Regions from separate parts of the Homo sapiens genome. Here region 2 is linked to region 1. The links come from fine-mapping of genetic effects on gene expression. A gene starts in region 1. The other region holds a variant in brackets. All regions are shown on one strand. Distances are from middle to middle.

Evidence for each region.
Region 2: its variant is fine-mapped to the expression of TMEM218 in whole blood (TOPMed, PIP 0.96).

Annotation. Positions count from the first base shown.
Region 1 is chr11:125,109,194-125,114,580 of GRCh38, reverse strand. TMEM218 (transmembrane protein 218) reads left to right here and starts at 2,955. Exons shown (of 5, transcript NM_001258244.2): 1 at 2,955-3,042. It also overlaps the pseudogene KRT18P59. RefSeq lists enhancers at 2,361-2,540, 1,903-2,815, 3,171-3,260 and a silencer at 2,631-2,700.
Region 2 is chr11:125,003,728-125,009,114 of GRCh38, reverse strand. CCDC15 (coiled-coil domain containing 15) reads right to left here. Exons shown (of 16, transcript NM_025004.3): 12 at 5,156-5,248; 13 at 3,903-4,006. Among named protein-coding and RNA genes, the nearest start is that of CCDC15, 52 kb to the right of the region's middle. The variant T/C (reference allele first, on the strand shown) is at 2,110.

The DNA of each region.
Region 1 (5,387 bases):
CTGCTCCATTTGCATGGCATAGCGGGCCTCCACCCACCTCAGGCTGTTCTCCAGGCTGGCCTTCAGATTTCTCATTGAGTCTAGGTTGATCTCTTAGGACTGAACTATACATCTCAGCTCCATGAATGTTGTCTCAGCAGCTCCTATTTTGGTGGACTGCGTGGTGACCACTGTGGTGTGTTCCTCAGTCTTCTGGGACCAGTACTTGTCCAGCTCTTCTCAGTTCTTCTGGGCCAGCTCATCATACTGGGCCGGGAGGTCTGCCATGATGTTGCTGAGGTCCTGAGATTTGGGGGCATTTACCTCCATGGTCAACTCAGAGCTGGCAATCAGGGCTTGTAGACCTTTTACTTCCTTCTCTTGGTTCTTCTTCATGAAGAGCAGCTCCTCCTTGAGAGCCTCCATCTCTGTCTCCAGCTGTAGCCGAGTGACATTGGTGTCATCAGTGACCTTGTGGAGCCCACGGACGTTGCTCTCCACAGACAGGCACATGACCAGCTCCGTCTTATACTTGACTCTAAAGTCATCAGCAGCAAGACGGGCATTGTCAATCTGTAGAACAACACAAGCATTGTCCACAGAATTTGCAAAGATATGAGCCCTCAAGTCCTTGATGGTCATGAAGTAATGCCCCCAGGCTCTGACCTGGGGTCTCTTCTTCTCCAAGTGCTCTCAGATTTTGCTCACCAGCCTCTGACTCTTGGTCACCAGAGTCCTCACTCTGTCCAGGTAGGAAATCCAGGCAATCATTCAGGCCTTGCATGGTATCCTTCTCATTCTGGATGTACCCCATTCCTTCCAGACCCCTGGCATCCCTGCAGCCAGGCCTCCAGACCCCCAGCCACTCCAGAAGCTGGTGGAGAAGGACACTGAGGTCCGGGAGCCCAAGCCCCTGAGGACTGCATAGACTTTGGCTGTGCTGCTGATGAACTGGACGCTGTGGCTGTGTGGCTGGATGGAATGCAGGGACTGGTAGTTGGTGGAGGTGGTAAAGCAAATGGTGAAGCTCATGCTGCCTAAGGAGAAAAGCGAGAGGACAGGACTCAAGTTCTGTTGAGCCATGCCCATTTTTAATTTATAGCTTAACTGAAGCCAGTATGATCATTAGAAGTGTAAGGAAGTTAACTTTTCCAATCTCAAACTTTGAACTTTTGACCACTTTCCTCCAAAATATTAAGGTCTCAGAGCCAGTTCTGACCAGCTTGTCTACACATTACTTTCCATCATTTGTCTCCATATTATTCTCCAGATACTCAGTGCTCATTCTTGCCTTGGCCTCTTTGCTCAAACTACTTTCTCCTCCTGGATTCTGTTCCACCTTTCCTGTTCCTACTCATATGCTAGGACCCAGCATTAGTTCTAGCTCTATGATAAAGACACACACATTAATTCCAGCCATAACAAAATATCCCCCAAATAATACAAGGGAAGAAGTGCTCTGGAAACTACGAAATGTTCTGCAAATATGAAGTATTATTATATTTTGGAGAAATTAATTGTACAATAGGGTTGGCCCATTGTTATATCTTGCTTTAAAGTGTTTCCTACTTGTTTCATGTGTTGTTGACCTAACATTACAAAACCACGGGCTATTAAGATGGGAGTCACATCTCATTTCTTGTATATCTTCGCAGTTCCTAACAGAACATAGCTGCAGTCAACACTCAGTTCCAGTGAAATGAATTCATCAAAATAAAGGATTTCTTAGCCACAGAGCTTCTCACTGGGCCAAGTAATGTTAAGTTGCTAAACGCACAACAAATCATTGGTTACTTTATGTGATTGTAAATGAAGCCTCGAAAGTTGAATAAATTTGAGACGTGCAGTTGATGAAATTCAAGCATCTTCTTCTTTTTGGTTCATAAAGCTGTGATTCAGGAGAATTCCTTAAATCAGAGATTCAGTGCTCTAAGATTGAATAGGTTGCTTCATGATATTTCTTAAAATTTTGTTTAAGGTCAAAGGTTCAAACGGTGCAGCTCTCCAATTTGGTATTGATTATTGTTTGTTTCCCCTTCTTGATTCAGTGGTGGAGCACGCAGCCTCTGTCCTACTTCCTTTGGTTGTCCTGATTGATGCATCTTTTGGTCTAACAGGCCATAGCCTCAAAGCAAAGTCATGGCAAGCTTTAGTTGGCAGTTAGGTAACAGCAGTCTGCCAATAGCGTGGGCCAGCTCCAGTTCCAGCAGCCTGGCGGCAGAGGGTTTACTTGATGGACCCTGGGCCTCTTCCCCAGTCTGTCCCGTGGGTAGAATGATCTTTGCCTTTGTCTGTTTCGCAAGGCTAATGGAAGAATTAAATACCAAATAAAACAAGTCGAGATAAAGATAAATGAAGCGTGCCGTTATTACAACTGGTGCTTCGTCCTCAGTTCCCTCCAGGAGGGTTGTTGGGGACACTTAATGACCGGGCCTGAGCTGACTTGTCCACCACATCTTGCGCCCCACTCGAGCTAGTGGGTTGGGGATTGAGATGTTCATCAGGCCCCGGAAAAGGCATTGATGTCTAGATGACTGTGCAGTTCTCTGGAGTTCGAGATCTGAGCTGCCTGGCCCTGCTGCTTCGCTGCCTGGATGGGCAATCTCTATGGTGACAGCGAGTGAGGCCGGAAGAAGTCTCTCTCTTCCGCCCAACAACCCGCCCTCAGGCTAGACTGACCAATGGCCCAATGAGTTACGGAGAGATGGTGTGATTGACAGTGGAGTGGCGGGGGGGCGGGGAGTGCAGCTCGGACCGCTGCTACCCAACCGAACTGAGGTCGGTCCAAAGGCTGACAGGCACCGACCAATCGGAGGGCGTAACGAAGGGTGACGAGCCAACCCACCGCGCTCGGCGTTGCCGGGAGCCGCGCTAGGCGTAAGCTAATGAGGAAGAAGTTGGCCGTTGAAAGAGCAACGCTGATTAGTGAATCTTAAATCACCTAAATGAAAGCCCACTTGTGATTCGCCCTAAGTAAACCAGAGCCCCGTGGGCTGGAACGCGCCGGAATCTGAGGTGTGAGTAGAGCCTGGGGGAGAGTGGATCCAGGTGAAGGGGGCAGAGGTGAGGAAAGCGGGGCGGCTGCGGGGAAGGGAGAAAAGTGGAGGGTCGGGCTGAGGTGGTTGGAAGAAGGCGTGGGCGGACGGCGGTGCACGGACCTCGCAGACCACCCTTACCGCTGATCTGGACCCAAGGCCCGGCTAATAAATACTTAATTGGAGGCAGAGAAGGAAGGACTGTTTTGTTTCATGCTCTTAAGAAAAGGAAGTGTCAGTGCCTGATTCAGATCTCTTATGACCGAGACCTTAATCCCTCTCTAGCTCCTGGGAGGTGGCCAGGTGCACATTCTGAAGACGAGACATGGGGGGCATTGTTTTCCTGTCGCCAGTTTGAATCTGCAACAGGGTTGGGGAGAAGCTTAGAGTTCAAGTGGGGTGTTCCCAGGCTGCAGTGCTGTGAGATCCAGAGAGCGGATAGACCGAGGCTCTGCAGCGCTTCCAACCCACAACACCGTCCAGGAGAGGGATGCAAGGAAGAGACCTAGGTTTACTGATCCTCCTTTTTCTATCAACGTGTTAAGAGCAGATGCTACATCGGTGGCATTTTGGGAGCTTGGCAACTGATTTTTTCCCCAGGCTTGCATTTTATCTAATTACAAAGGTAGAGGCGTTATTCTAATATTTTAAAATTCAAAAGATAGTGAAGTGTTTAAAGTAGAAACATAAAAGTGTGAAAGTAACCCCCCCCCCCCGTTATTTTTGAAGGTTTGGAAAACAGCTATAAAGCAAAGTGAAAAGGACTCTTCCAGAGGAGCACTTCACTCCTTGTAACCCACTGTTTTCTGTTGCTTTCAAGGGCTTGAGTCAGTGTGAAAATCGGGGGATGGGTGAGATATCTCCCTCCAGCAGCAGCACTTAGGCCACATTACCCTCTGAGGAATCCACATTTGTCTTAGATAGTAAGTCATCTTATAAGTCATCTTATAATGGCAGTTAGTATTCTCGCTCATGATGATCAACCTGGTGATGAGTACCGTATTTTTAATCCATTAGGTTACCTGTGCAGGGATCAGTCCATTTATTCCTATTTTCTCTGACAGCTGGATGAAAGGGTATGTAGAAACAACCATTAAATGAACACACACATCTAAAAGGTTTTGAACAAACTCTCTCAGAGAAAAACCTCACAGCATTGAGCACAGAAGGAAAACATTAGCCCTGTAGTTGCTTTTGTTGTCAGCTGCTGAACTGTTCAAATTTAAATTATTTTTTTTCACTCCAGTCTACCTGCTTTAAATGCCACAGATATTAAGTAAATGGACTTACCCTTGAAATCGGGTTGGCCAAGCCATCACTTCTCAAAGAAGGTTTAATGATGGCATGAACCCGTTTTTATATTTTATTGTATTGTACTCAATAACAATAATTTAGCTATTCTAATATGGGAAATTATCACAGATATTATTCTCACATTTAAATAAGATAAAAATGACTAGATGTTCTCTCTTCCTCTATAGCAGCACTCTATACTATACCCAGCCCTTCTTTTCTATGCTTAGTAAGAAAATGTATAGTTTGCTTATAAAATTATGAGCTCCATTCTTAAAAGAGCTTGGGAATATTTATCTTATTACTTTAAAGCCATACCATATATAAATCCAATGTCTCACGAACTCTTAAGCTACTAAGGGGGATTGAAGGGCAACATTTCTAATGGCGCCAGCCAGCTTCAACTACCATTTGCCCTCTATTCTAACTGTTAGAGTTGGTCCAAGTCTTCTGGGTTATTTGTGTAATATCCAGAATAGCACAAATTAAATTTAAATAGTTGTTTTCTTAAGAGCAGTACCATCAGCTCAGTCAACTAAGCTAGAAACTTGTGTCATTTCTAACACCTTCTCCCTTGACACAGCTAAGACTGGAGGTCAGACCCTCATCATCTCTTATCTGGAGAATTGCAATAGTTTCCTAACTGGTCACCCAATTCATATGCATCCTGCTGCCCATTACCTTTTTAAAAATTAAAAATTATCACGAAAAATTTAAAAACAGAAAATAGTACATTGGGTAGTATAATATCTATGTTCCACCAATCAGATTAATAAATATTAACATTTTGGCACACCAGCTCAAGTTTTTTATTTTAAAGAAATAAAACATCACAGATTTAGTTCAGATCCCTTTTATTTCCACTCCTAACCCCATTCCCTTTCCTTCCTCCCTCTGCAGAGGCAAATAGTCTTTTGAAATTGTCATGTATTGTTTATGCCCATGTTTTTATACTTTTGCTGTATATACGTTCGTCAGAAACAATATATATTACTGTTTAGATTGTATTTAATTTTAAAAATACAAGTAGTATCATACTGTGGGTTCCATTTTGCAACTTGTTTTTGTCACTCAACATTG
Region 2 (5,387 bases), 110 kb after region 1:
GCTGGGATTACAAGGATTACAAGCATGAGCCACCATGCCCAGCTAGTTTTGTATTTTTAGTAGAGACGGGGTTACTCCACGTTGGTCAGGCTGGTCTCGAACTCCTGACCTCAGGTGATCTGCCCGCCTCAGCCTCCCAAAGTGCTAGGATTACAGGCGTGAGCCACCGCGCCCAGCTCATTATAACTTTTTATGCATTGTTTAGAAGTTAGTAGGCACAATGAAGTTTGTCAAGACAACTGGGGTTGAGCTCTAAGGGGCACAGTAAAAACCCATAGCCTGTAGTCCCAGCTACTCAAGAGGCTGAGGCAGGAGAATCTCTTGAACCAGGGAGGCGGAGGTTGCAGTGAGCCGAGATCACGCCACTGCACTCCAGCCTAGCAACGGAGCGAGACTCTGTATCAAAAAAAAAGAAAAAGAAATGCAACTGATGGAGAAGAACTTCTTCAACCTGAAAAAGCGCATCTACAAAAAATGTACAGCTAACATCATACTTGATGGTAAGAAACTGTAAGTTTACCTGCTAGGATAAGAAACAAGCCAAAGATGTACCCTCTCATTAACATCATACTGAAAGTCCTTGCTAATGAAATAAGGCAACGAAAGGAAATAAAAGGCATACAGACTGGGAAAGAAGAAATAAAACTAACTTTGTTCACTGGTGACATGATCATATAATAACAAAAATGTCACTGAACAAGCTACTGGAACTAAGTGATTACAGCAGGGTTGAAGGATACAAGTTTAATATACAAAAGTCAATCACTTTCCGATATACCAGCAATGAACGGGTGGAGTTTAAAATTAAATGCACAATACCATTTATATGTATTTCCAAAATGAAAGATTTAGGTATAAGTCTAACAAAAAATATATAAGATCTATATGAGCAAAAACAACAAAACACTGAAGAAAGAAATCAAAGGACAACTAAATAAAATGGAGAGATCATCTATGGTCATGGATAGAAAGACTCAATATTGTCAAGATGTCAGTTCTCCCCAACTTGATATATACATTAACTGCAATCTCAGTAAAAATCTCAACAAGTTATTTCGTGGATATTGACAAACTTATTTAAAGTTTATGTAGAGAGGTAAAGCCAACACAACATTAAAAAAGAAAAACAAAGTTGAAAGACTGAAATTACCCGACTTCAAGACTTATTATAAAGCTACATGCCACACCCACTGTTGCCAGCACCCAGGTATAGAACCAAACGACCTGAGGACAGGCCTGCCTCACCCACTGCCGCCACTTCAGGCACTCATGCTTGTCATCCGGGTGCCTGGGGATCAACTGAACTTACCCACAATGAGATATCATCTCACCACAGTTAAAATGGCAATTATCAAAACAACAAAAAGTAACAAAAGCTGGTGAGGATGTAGAGAAAAGGGAACTCTTATACACTGTTGGTGGGAATGTAAATTAATACAGAAATTATGGAAAACGGTATGGAGATTTCTAAAAAAAAAACCTAAAAACAGAACTTCCAGATGATCCAGCAACTCCACTATTGGGTATTTATTCAAAGGAAAAGAAATCAGTGTATCAAAGGTATACCTGTATCCCCATGTTTACTGTGGCACCATTCACAATTGTCAAGATATTGAATCAACCTAAGTGTCTTCAACAGAGGGACACAAAGAAAATGTGGTATATACACACAGTGGAATACTATTCGGCCATAAAAAGAATGAAATCCTGTCATTTGCTGCAACACAGATGGAACTGGAAGTCATTATGTTAAATCAAATAAGCCAGGCACAGAAAGACAAACATCGCATGTTCTCACTCACATGTGGGAGCTAAAAAAGCTGATCCCATAGAGGTAGAAAGTAGAATGATAGTTAACCAGAGGGTGGGAAGGGAGGAGAGGATGAAGAATGGGTTAATGGGTATAAACATACAGTTAGACAGATAGAATAAATTCTACTTATTGGTAGCACAGTAGGGTGACTCTAGTTAACAATAATTTATTGTATATTTCAAAACAGCTAGAAGATTTGAAATGTTCCCAATCCAAAGAAATCATAATGTTTGAGATGACAGGTATCCAAATTACTCTGATTTGATCATTACACATCATACATTTGATCATATACA[T/C]TGCATGTTATCAAAATATTACATGTATCCCATAAATATGTACAATTATTATGTATCAATAAAAATATGTAAGTAAAGCTACAATAATCAAAACAGTGTGGTATGGCAAAAGAATAGACAAATAGATCAATGGAACAGAACAGAGAACCAAGTCCAAAAAACAGAACCACATAAATGCAGTCAACTGATTTTTAACAAAAGAGCAAAGGCAATATGATTAATAAAAGATGGTCTTTTCAACAAATGGTGCTGGAACAACTGGACATCCACATGCAAAAAAAAAATGACTCTAAACACAGATCTTACACCTCTCACAAAAATTAACAAAGTGGATCATAGAGAAAAATGTAAAATGCAAAACTACAAAACTCCTAGAAGGTAACACAGGAGAAAATCTAAGTGACTTTGGGTATGGCAGTGACTTTTTTTTATATATAACACCAAAGGCACAATCCATGAAAGAAAGAACTGATTAGGCAGACTTCATTTTGCTCTGCAAAAGATACTGTCAACAGATGAGAAGACATGCTACAGACTGGGGAAAAAATGTTTACAAAAGACTGATAAAGAACTGTTATTCAAAATATACAAAGAACTCTTAAAATTCAACAAGAAGAAGCAAAATGAACAGACACATCACCAAAGAAGATACACAGATGACAAATAAGCATGTGAAAAGGTGCTCCATATTATATGTCATTAGGGAAGTGAAAATTAAAACAATGAGATACTACTACACACCTACTAGAATGGCCAAAATCCAAAATACTGACACCACCAAATGTTGGCAAGGATGTCAAGCAACAGGAACCCTCACTCCTTGCTGGTGGGAATGCAAAATGGTATAGCCACTTTGGAAGACCATTTGGTAGTGTCTTATAAAGCTAAATATATTTTTACCACATGATCCAGCAATCATATGCCTTGTTATTTACTCAAATAAGCTAAAAATGTATGCCCCCACAAAAACTTGTACATAGATTTTAAAGTAGCTTTATTCATAATTGCTAAATATTGGCAGCAAATAATATGTTCTTCAGTAGGTGAATGAATAACTAAACTGTGATACATTCAGATAATGGGATATTATTCAGTGCTAAAAATAAATGAGCTATCAAGCCATAAAAAAGCATTAGAGGAAACGTACATGCATATTTCTAAGTATAAAAAGCCAATCTAAAAAGGTTGCATACATACTGTATGATTCCAACTATATGACGTTCTGGAAAAGGCAAAACCATGGAGACAGTAGAGAGTTCAGTGGTTACCACAGGATAGGGTGTAAAGAGGGAGGAATAGGCAGAGCACAGAGGATTTTAGGGAAGTGAAAGCACTTTGTATAATACCATAATGGTAGACACATGACATTATGTATTTGTCAAAACCCATAGAATGCCTAACACCAAAGGTGAACCCTAATGTAAACTATGGACTTTGGGTAATAATAATGTGTCAATGTAGGTTCATCAATTCTAATACATTGTACCACTATGGTGCAGGATAGTGACAGTAGGAGAGGCTACGCATTTGTGGGGCAGAGGGTATACTCTCTGTACTTTCTGCTCAATTTTGCTGTGAGCCTAAAATTGCCCTAAAAAAATCAAGTCTAATAGAAAATCGAACCAAAAAACCAAACCATAGCTGTTCACCATCTTCCAATACTTCACCCAGATCAAAAATAGCTGTTTTCAATATGGATCAGAGGGCAAAACCATTACCTTTTTCTAAAGTTCATCTTCCAAAAACATCTTAATTGGCAATTTAAGGCTCACAGAGCAGATCGAATAACTTACTTTTCAATTTTCTTCTTTTGTTCTTTTTGCCTTTGTTGTTCTTTAACTTGTTCTCTCTCAATATCCATGAAAAGTCGTCTATGTCTCAGGTACTGCTTTTGACGCTAAAGGTAAGAAGTTAAAATTACTAAGATTCTGCTTTCAGAGGAATTTCCAAGGAAGAAAAATATTCTTATACCATAGACAAAAACAAATGCAAGCAAACAGAAACAGATGATATAGAAGTTACATGATTAAGTCTTTAATTTCCTTCTGTCTATGGTCACTCAGGATGTCACATACACAAGAATTTTATATTTTCAAGCACATGGCTATTATATGTTAATAGGCAAACCAGAGAAAGTATTTACTCTGTTACTCTGAAATATTTACTCTGTGTTCCCAAGTAGTAAGTACCATAAAAGCAGAGCCACAGAAAGAATGTAGAAGATATTTCATAACAGAACCAATAGTTACTTTAACTTTTCAAAATTAAAACAGTATCACAAAAGCATACTCTAAGCCTAGCCTAACATGGCACGGAGGAGGGTAGAAGGGCTGAGGTATACTAAAGCCTCAGACTCATAAATGAAACAAGTAGAATAAAAGCAAGTGCTACTAGACTGTGTGTGATCTGTTCATTCCTCTGGATTTATATATACTCTTTTAAATACACAAGCTATTCGATGAGCAAAAAGCATGTCTATGTATATACCAAAGTAGTGCAGGGCTTTTTGGTAAAAATTACTGAAGTTCTAAATAGTAGCTCTTAATACTGAGGATGCATCAGAATCACCAGTGGTATTTTTAAAAAACAAAAATGCCCTAAACCTCCGTTTTCAGATACTGATTTGGTATATCTGGTTTAGATCTAGGCATATTTGTATTTTGAAAAAAGCTCCCCATCTGATTCTGGTGCATGGCCAGGGTTAAGAACTATCGGTTTAAACTAACTTTAGATTGAAAAGAGAAAAAAAAAAGAAAGCCATAAAGTAATTATCTTCCTTTAAATAAGTTATAGTGGCAAATATACATTAGCTGGAGAAATTTATTAGTATCAAATAATTGATTTCACATCAATGTACCCTAACTCATAGGAGCTTGGAAAATAAATTCAACACATTATAATGAGTCAAGCAACTTTTATTTGATTTATGAAATTTGTGGTATTAGCTCTTTTATGTGTTAGGACACAACAAATTGTTTCCAATTTCTCATATATTAATACTATCATAGTAGAAATATTGGGATCCAAAAGCAGTATCATTACATACCTCTTTCTTATCTTCTTCTTTATCCACGTCAGACTGAAATGCCAGTGGAGCTTGGAATTCAGTGCTCAATCCTGATTGATACCTATCATAAGCCTGTTAAGAAGGTCCAGTCACACAAAGTGACAAAATTACCAAAAACTACCCCATGAACAATTTTGATATTTTTATCTGTTCTTTTCTTTTGCAAACTTGGGCTCAATTGGATAAAGAAGGGGAAAAAACATGAATATAA